Homo sapiens: one gene and its partner. The protein of the gene in region 2 interacts with the protein of the main gene of each other region in a pairwise test. Each region holds a gene or a part of one and is shown on either strand. Other genes may lie near its edges.

Region 1 (3,648 bases), on a different chromosome or scaffold from region 2:
ATGTAATGCTATTTTAATCCTGCTGTGGCCCCCAATACTAGTACTTGTCCATACCTTCTTGCATTTTTAGCGTCTGCTCTGTGGGGTTGTTAGGCCCTGGCACTCCCAGGAACTAGTGCTAAAGCTGCATCTCTCTCTCCCCTCTAGGGATCGATAAAGTTTCACTGCAGAAAGTCTCCACTGCGGTATGCTGACATCTGCCCTGAACCTTCACCCTACAGCATTACAGGCTTTAATCAGATTCTGCTGGAAAGACACAGGCTGATCCACGTGACCTCTTCTGCCTTCACTGGGCTGGGGTGATCCTTGGTGCCTTTGTTTCCACAAGGCCTTTTCCTGCCCCCTGCCTTGCCAAAGACATTTAATCAGCACACAGCTGCCAGACTATTCCCACAGTGCTCCAAATGCACATGAACAACAGTGACGGCTCCAGCCTTCGACCCAGAGCCCCGTGCCCAGTGCGTCAGTGGGCCTGGGGTTCCAGGCTACATCAAGCACTGATGGTGTCAGGGCTGGTAGTTACCAAATCAGGGTTAAGAAACATCAGGGCCACATTTCACTACCTTCACAGATCAAACTCAGCAGCAGTCATGACTGTCTGTCACTACACTGGGGATCCCAATTCCACATAAGCACTTTTGGAAGAAAACAGCCAAAGTTGGCCTAAAATTGGCGCTGGAATTTGGGCTGGGAAAAATCTTGTGGTTATTTCCTTTAAAAAGGAACAAAACTTTAGTATTTAATTAGTTGATTTATTTAATGTAATTTCAAACAATTAAATTATGAATAATGCAATGTACAGTAGAATCACGTTTTGATTTTATTAACACTGACCAAGTTTAACTCCATATGAAGTGTAAGCTTGATATCGTTTATGATGTCTATCAACTGTACCAAAAGTAAAACATTTAAAAACAATCATCTGAATGTCAAGTTTTCTCTCCATAAAGGACTTGCCACCTTAAGGACCCCAAGTCTGCCTGAAACATGAGCCACATCAATGCCGGTAAAGGCCTGCATGACCTAATCTGCATCCTGGAAACCTCTTTTGCCTGAGCTCCCCAGCCCCAAACTAGCTGGTCTGGGAGAGGGAGCAGGCAGGTTCCAGGAGTCAAGCACACGCTTGAGCAAGCAGCACAATAATCCATCTTAAGACTCCTCATTCTGGGATGGCTCCACAATTCCTAAACAGCAGTCTGCAAACTCCACAAACAAAGGCTCTTGCATGTAAGCTCTCATGAGCTTTGCTTTGTCTTCTCCCTGATCGAGGTTGACCATCAACTGCCTGAGGTGTGGATTGAGCAATAAGCTTCTTAATGTTGCAGATTCCCCTAAAAATTAACAAGAAAAAAAGCCAGTCTGAGTTCAAGTGGAAACACATGGAGATGGCTGAAAAGTGAAGAGCTATTTCAAGTGTAATAAAACTATCAGCAAGGTGTGGTGGCTCATGCCTGTAATACCAGCAACTGGGGAGGTCAAGGTGGGCAGATTGCTTGAGCTCAGGAGTTCAAGACCAGCCTGTGCAACATGGCGAGACCCCACCTCTATAAAATGAAAGGTAAGACCAGCATATCAAACTATTTCCGCATTAAATGCAGTAACAGATACCAGTTCTTGGTATCTTTGTAAATATTGTAACTTCGTGCCACTTCAGCTAAGAAAAAAATGCTTTATCAGCACAATCACAAAGCAAATAGTAGCATTAAGCTGCTGGCATGTTTTCTTTCTTTCTAGCCATAAAAGTTGCCAGTGGTGAAGACGGCTATACGAAATAATCTGAATGATGTCTAAGCATGCCATTTGGCATGCAGCAGCACCAGTAGCAGGGAACCAACAATAATACCTGCATGGTACTTCACAGTCTGTAAAATTTTTCACACCTATTACTAGCTCATCTCCAAACTCAGTCTAACTAATCATTACCATGAGACTAAGTGCAAAACATAACCTTTTAACATGATTCTGTGAAATGGGAAGAATGAAATTAACAGACCCCATGCACATGTAACAGAATGTTGTAAGGACTGAATAAGCAGTGCTACAAAAATGGCAACACCTGTTTCCCCCTAAATCAAATCATGTGATAACCAGTTTGTGTTAAGGGCTGGACTGTGAGCTGAGCACTGGGGATCTGGGAATACAGGTCCCTGCTGTACAAATCGGTATGTGAGAGACAAATTACCATGAAATGTAACAGTGATTTATTACTATTAAGTCCAAGTTGCTATGGGAAACCAAAAAAGTGCCTAATTCTGAAAGAGACACAAAAGGTCAAGAAAAGCTTAGCTGAGTGAAGAAAACTTGAACCAAGGCTTGAAGGAGGAGCAGAATTTTGCCAACCCACAAGACCAGCAGGATTCCAGGCAGAAGGAATGGTGTGGGCAGGCTGGGAGGTGTGAAACCCTGTATGTTTACAGATTATGTGGCTAGATAGTAAGAGCCCTACATGCCATACTTATTCAAGAAATTAAAAACTTTTTAAAAAATCACAATCCTTACAACACAGTAAATGTATCTCAACGATTGACAAGCATAGCACAGACTTACCTAAATTCTTTAAATTCTGCAAAGAAACTCTGTCTTCTTCCTCATCACTATTGAGAAAATCAGCTATAGAGTCATCATCATCTAAGGAATACAAAACAGTCAATGGCTCATGGCTAAAAAGGAGGCCTGGGCACCAGATTTTAACCACTACTTGAACAGGATAAAAATGTGTGCACGCACATGTGATAGTGATAGGGGTATTCAAGCAGGTACAGACAAAAATCCTCTTCTCCGGAGTCTGTGACTATACTAACACTCCTTTTTTAGAAGAGGGAGGCTAAGTGAAAGAATTGGTGATTTTAACAAATGCACTCTAGTGTTCACATCCTTACTGTATATGTGGTCCTGTGGTCTTTAGGCTTAGACCCCGGTTGTCTAATAACTTAATACCCATCCCCACCTCAACATGGCTCCAACCCTGTGATGGGCCAATTAACTGGATGCTCTGTAAAAACCAGCCAAGTAGAATCTCCTGTGCTTTCAGCATGGGCAGAAACTGCTGGCATTGCCTGAACCCAACCTGGAAATTTCTCAAAGGGCAAAAATGGGCCATGCCTTTGGAGTGAATGTTCAATACCTCTTTGGTGGCACCAGAGGGGCTGCTTTCAGAGCCTGGCATGGTGCTTGACACCCAGGAGGTATTAAAGAACGTTTAGATGGCTGGACGGATGGGTTGACAGCCCACTACTGCTGTGAGCTCTGAACCCCCAGCAGCAGCGAGATGATCTAGGACAAAGAAAGCCTCCTGCCTGGGCTGAGTTCAGGTGAACTGACAGTCCCAGCCAGATTCATGGAGGGAGACCAGCAGCTATGGGCTAGAGAAGGCTCCTGCCAGCAGGGCCCACCGCAAACCCCCAAACCACAGCCATGGCCTTTCTCATCTCTGTCTTCTGCCCATTTTTCTTCTCCTGAATACTGCTTTCAGGCTGTTGCCTCAATATCACCCATGATGACATGGCCCCACTCCTGATGCTCAAGGCTAAGGAAGCTGTTCCTTCCCAATGAAGCTATTGTTCTGGATTCCCTGACCAGCCCCACTCTCCCCTTTTCCTTCGACTTATTCTATGTGAAGTCCCTTGTAGATTTGTTTGAAGTCAACCA
Region 2 (3,827 bases):
GCATCCTGTTTTCTCTGAAGGATAACATATAACAATGTAATTGGTATATTTGATACTGACTATATTCTTGTGATAATGATTTGTAAGTATCTCTGTTCCTGAAAGACATAAGAAAGTTTGGTTTATAATTGCCTTTTGCCAATGAACATCCTCATCAGAGAAAAACAAAGTACAAACTTACTAATTCTGGTGCTGTTTATGGGTTAATCACTTGTTTGTTTTAAATCAGACATTGATTCCATTAAGGTAATCAGACTTCATTATAAATCAAAGTGTTAATTTCATATTATGACCCCAGTTAACTATGCAAACATGATTATTAGTAGTAATTCCTTATTTATTTTGTGTCAGCATCATGCTGAGTGCTTTATCGGTGCTATTTATTGTATTTAATCCTTACAACAGTAGAGTATAAATTCCCTTGGTAATTTTCTTTTCTTTTGTGTTTTTTGAGGGGTACAGATCAGAAGAGATCTGTTTAGTTCCCTACTAAATCTCCAGAGCCTGGAACAATGCCTGGCACACAGTAGGCGCTCAATAAATACCTGTTGAATTAGTACTTGAGTGAATGAATGAATGAGTGAATTGCAGCCTTCTGAAGTGGGTATTAGCCCCATTTTTGCAGATAAGGAAAAAGGATCACAAAGATTATGTGTCTATAGACACAAATGAGTGAATCAAAGGCCTAGGATGTGACCACAGGTATGTCTGATTCCAAGTGGTTGTGATAAAGTGGTTTTCACACAATGAACCAGGTGTCCATTAAAATCATCCGGAGGACTTTTAAACCGTGAATGCCCTGGCCACTCCTCACTCGTCAGAATCTCTGGTAAGTGGCAGTATTTTTTGAAAGCTCCTAGGTGATTCTAGTTCCACACACTATGTGGTTTTCTACAGATATAGGTACATTTTTCTGACTGTAAGTAAGGTCTCTAAGGATACATGTTCCCTTATAGCTCTTTTCTTTTAAACATGGTTTATCCTCCACATTGAATGCTACCTGTGCCTAGCCAATCTGTTTAATTCCTAATTGTGCTTCAAGAATTAGGACTCTTTAGGTAAGTTTCTCTTGATCCATCTACATCTCTAACTATAAAGGGGTTTTTCTTACCCTCTGTTCCCACGAACTCCTAATTACTCGAATCAGCATATACCACTGCCAGTGTTTACCTGAATATCTCCTCTAGTCTGACAAGACTGGAGGCTCCTAGAGGGCAGACTTTTGCTTTATGTCTTGTTCATGTTATGTATACGCTGCGTTTAGCATCTATACAGATCTTCTACAAACATTTACTTAACATATATACTAATGGATTTGCTGCTTTTCTCTGCCACAGAAACAAGCAAATACATTAAATATTCTTTAGAATATATACTTGAATGTGAAATAAAAGTGATTGTTTCTTTCTTTACCTCAAAATTCAATAATTACTATCTCTAATATACCTGTCCAAAGTTTATTTTTTCCTTTTGTTTTGCAATTTTTTATATTAAGCTTTCTAAGTTTCAGTAATGTAGTTACCATGCTGTAATGTTGCAAATATCACAGGGGCTGATATTTATCTTAAAACACCATGTGAACACTGTTTGTTTTGCAATGTTTGAGATTTAAAAAAAAAATAGAGGGAGTATATGTAACAAATAATATGTAATCAATATCAGATGAAATTCACAGATCACAAATTTTAAGTCATATTATTCTAGATTTTATGTATGTATATAAAGAAATAAAATATTTTAAAAAATTTTTTTAATTTTTAAATATTTTTTAAAATTTTTAAAATTTTTATTTTAAAAATGTTTTTAATATAAAAAAATTTTTTTTAAAAAAGCACACATAATCAAGGTATATGAAAGCATGTTTCTGGGTAGGCATAACCCTGTAACTAGTCTCACTGAACTATTTTGAATATAAACAGTGCCAAAAGCTAACAGGAGTTATCAACAAATTCATATTATAAAGTTCTTTTTTTCTAAGAAAGCAGGGCCAGGCACAGTGGGTCTGGCCTATGATCCCAGCACTTTGTGAGGCTGAGGCAGGAGAATCACTTGAGCCCAGGAGTGTGAACTTACAGTATGCTACGACTGCACCACTGCCTTCTAGCCTGGGTGACAAAGCAAGACCCTCTATCTTTAAAAAAAGGGTAGCAAATGACGAATAAAATAAGAGATACTGTTATAACTTTGCTCCTAGACTGACTTGTAACTGGATAAATCAATGAGTACCTCCTTCATTCTTAGTTTCACTTTATCCTTCAATCCAGTTTGACTGAAATAACAAACATTTAAATAAAGAACACTCTGGACTTCCTAGTAGAAAGGTATCAACCAGGCATGGCCTAGTTCCTAAAATCCAGGGCCCATTCTCTCAGGCTGTTTGAGGATTCACAGGCTCCTTAATGGAAAAAGGCAGTAACAACAGCAGGATGGATGAAAGACTACTCAGAGAAACTGACATGGAAACATTTTACCAGAAACACTCTGGGATAAAGTGCCTTATCTCAACCATTACCTGGATAAAGTGGAAAGTAAAGAACCAAAAAACTATTTAAGAATTCTAGGTGTTCCTGGAAGAATGAATGACAAATGATGACTTCAAAGCATTCTGCATCTGAATGGCAACAAATGCTTGGAACATGATGTGACAGCAAAGTCTATCTAGGTTACAGAAGCAGCAAAGAAGCTCTCAAGACATTAGCTAAAACCAGAAACTGAATTTCTCTATTCCTAGGCTATTTCAAAGTTCATGTAATGCACAGGATTTCTACACAAATTATGGACCCTGAGATAGCTAATTTGTTTACCCAAAGAATAGCTGCCATCACAAATTATAGATAGCCAAGGTTAACTTTGGGATCACAGGTAAAGGCACATGAGACCATTACTAGAGAAACTCCAGATATCATGCAAAGCTCTTTATAACCACTGCTTATGTAGAGCTCTTTGAGGGCAATGAAGAGAGCCTGGCAACAACAGAATTTCTGAAGGACACTTGGCTGGGATGCACTAAAGAAATCTACCAGAGGTCTCCAGGTTGCAAGCCATGATATACAGCCTATTTTTGGTTAAATTATGTACCAATTTTTCATCAGACAAAATTTGCACCAGACAGTATGTGACAAAGTAAAAATAATAATTTGGAAAAAGAATCCAGAAGTTTTATTTTTTTGATTATTTTTGATTTTTATTATACTTTAAATTCTGGGATACATGTGCAGAACGTGCAGGTTTGTTACATGGGCATACATGTGACATGGACATGGTGGTTTGCTGCACTCATCAACCCATCATCTACATTAGGTATTTCTCCTAATGCTATCCCCCACCTTGCCCCACAACCCCCAGGAGGCCCCAGTGTGTGATGTTCCCCCCCCGTGCCCACATGTTCTCATTGCTCAACTCCCACTTATGAGTGAGAACATGAGATGTTTGGTTTTCTGTTCCTGTTGTTAGTTTGCTGAGAATGATGGTTTCCAGCTTCATCCATGTCCCTGCAAAGGACAGGAACTCATTCTTTCCTATGGCTGTATAGTATTCCATGGTGTATATGTGCCACATTTTCTTTATCCAGTCTATCATTGATGGACATTTGGGTTGGTTCCAAGTCATTGCTATTGTGAATTGTGCTGCAATAAACATACGTGTGCATGTGTCTTTATAGTAGAATGATTTACAAAACTGAGTATATACCCAGTAATGGGACTGCTGGGTCAAATGTTATTTCTAGTTCTAGATCCTTCAGGAATTGCCACACTGTCTTCCACATGGTTGAACTAATTTACACTCCCAACAGTGTAAAAGCATTCCTATTTCTCCACATCCTCATC

What was found.
Region 1: the proteins of MBNL1 (region 2) and ZNHIT3 interact in a two-hybrid assay, tested with the Homo sapiens proteins (one large-scale study listed by BioGRID and IntAct).

What each region holds. Positions count from the first base shown.
Region 1 is NC_000017.11:36,492,906-36,496,553, reverse strand, and holds the end of ZNHIT3 (zinc finger HIT domain-containing protein 3), read right to left. Parts: intron 2,629-3,648; coding exon 2,548-2,628; intron 1,332-2,547; coding exon 1,150-1,331; 3' UTR 732-1,149; downstream 1-731. Other genes in the region: MYO19 (unconventional myosin-XIX), read left to right, coding at 148-303.
Region 2 is NC_000003.12:152,425,712-152,429,538, reverse strand, and holds part of MBNL1 (muscleblind-like protein 1), read right to left. Parts: intron 1-3,827. UniProt on the Homo sapiens protein: Mediates pre-mRNA alternative splicing regulation. Acts either as activator or repressor of splicing on specific pre-mRNA targets. Inhibits cardiac troponin-T (TNNT2) pre-mRNA exon inclusion but induces insulin receptor (IR) pre-mRNA exon inclusion in muscle.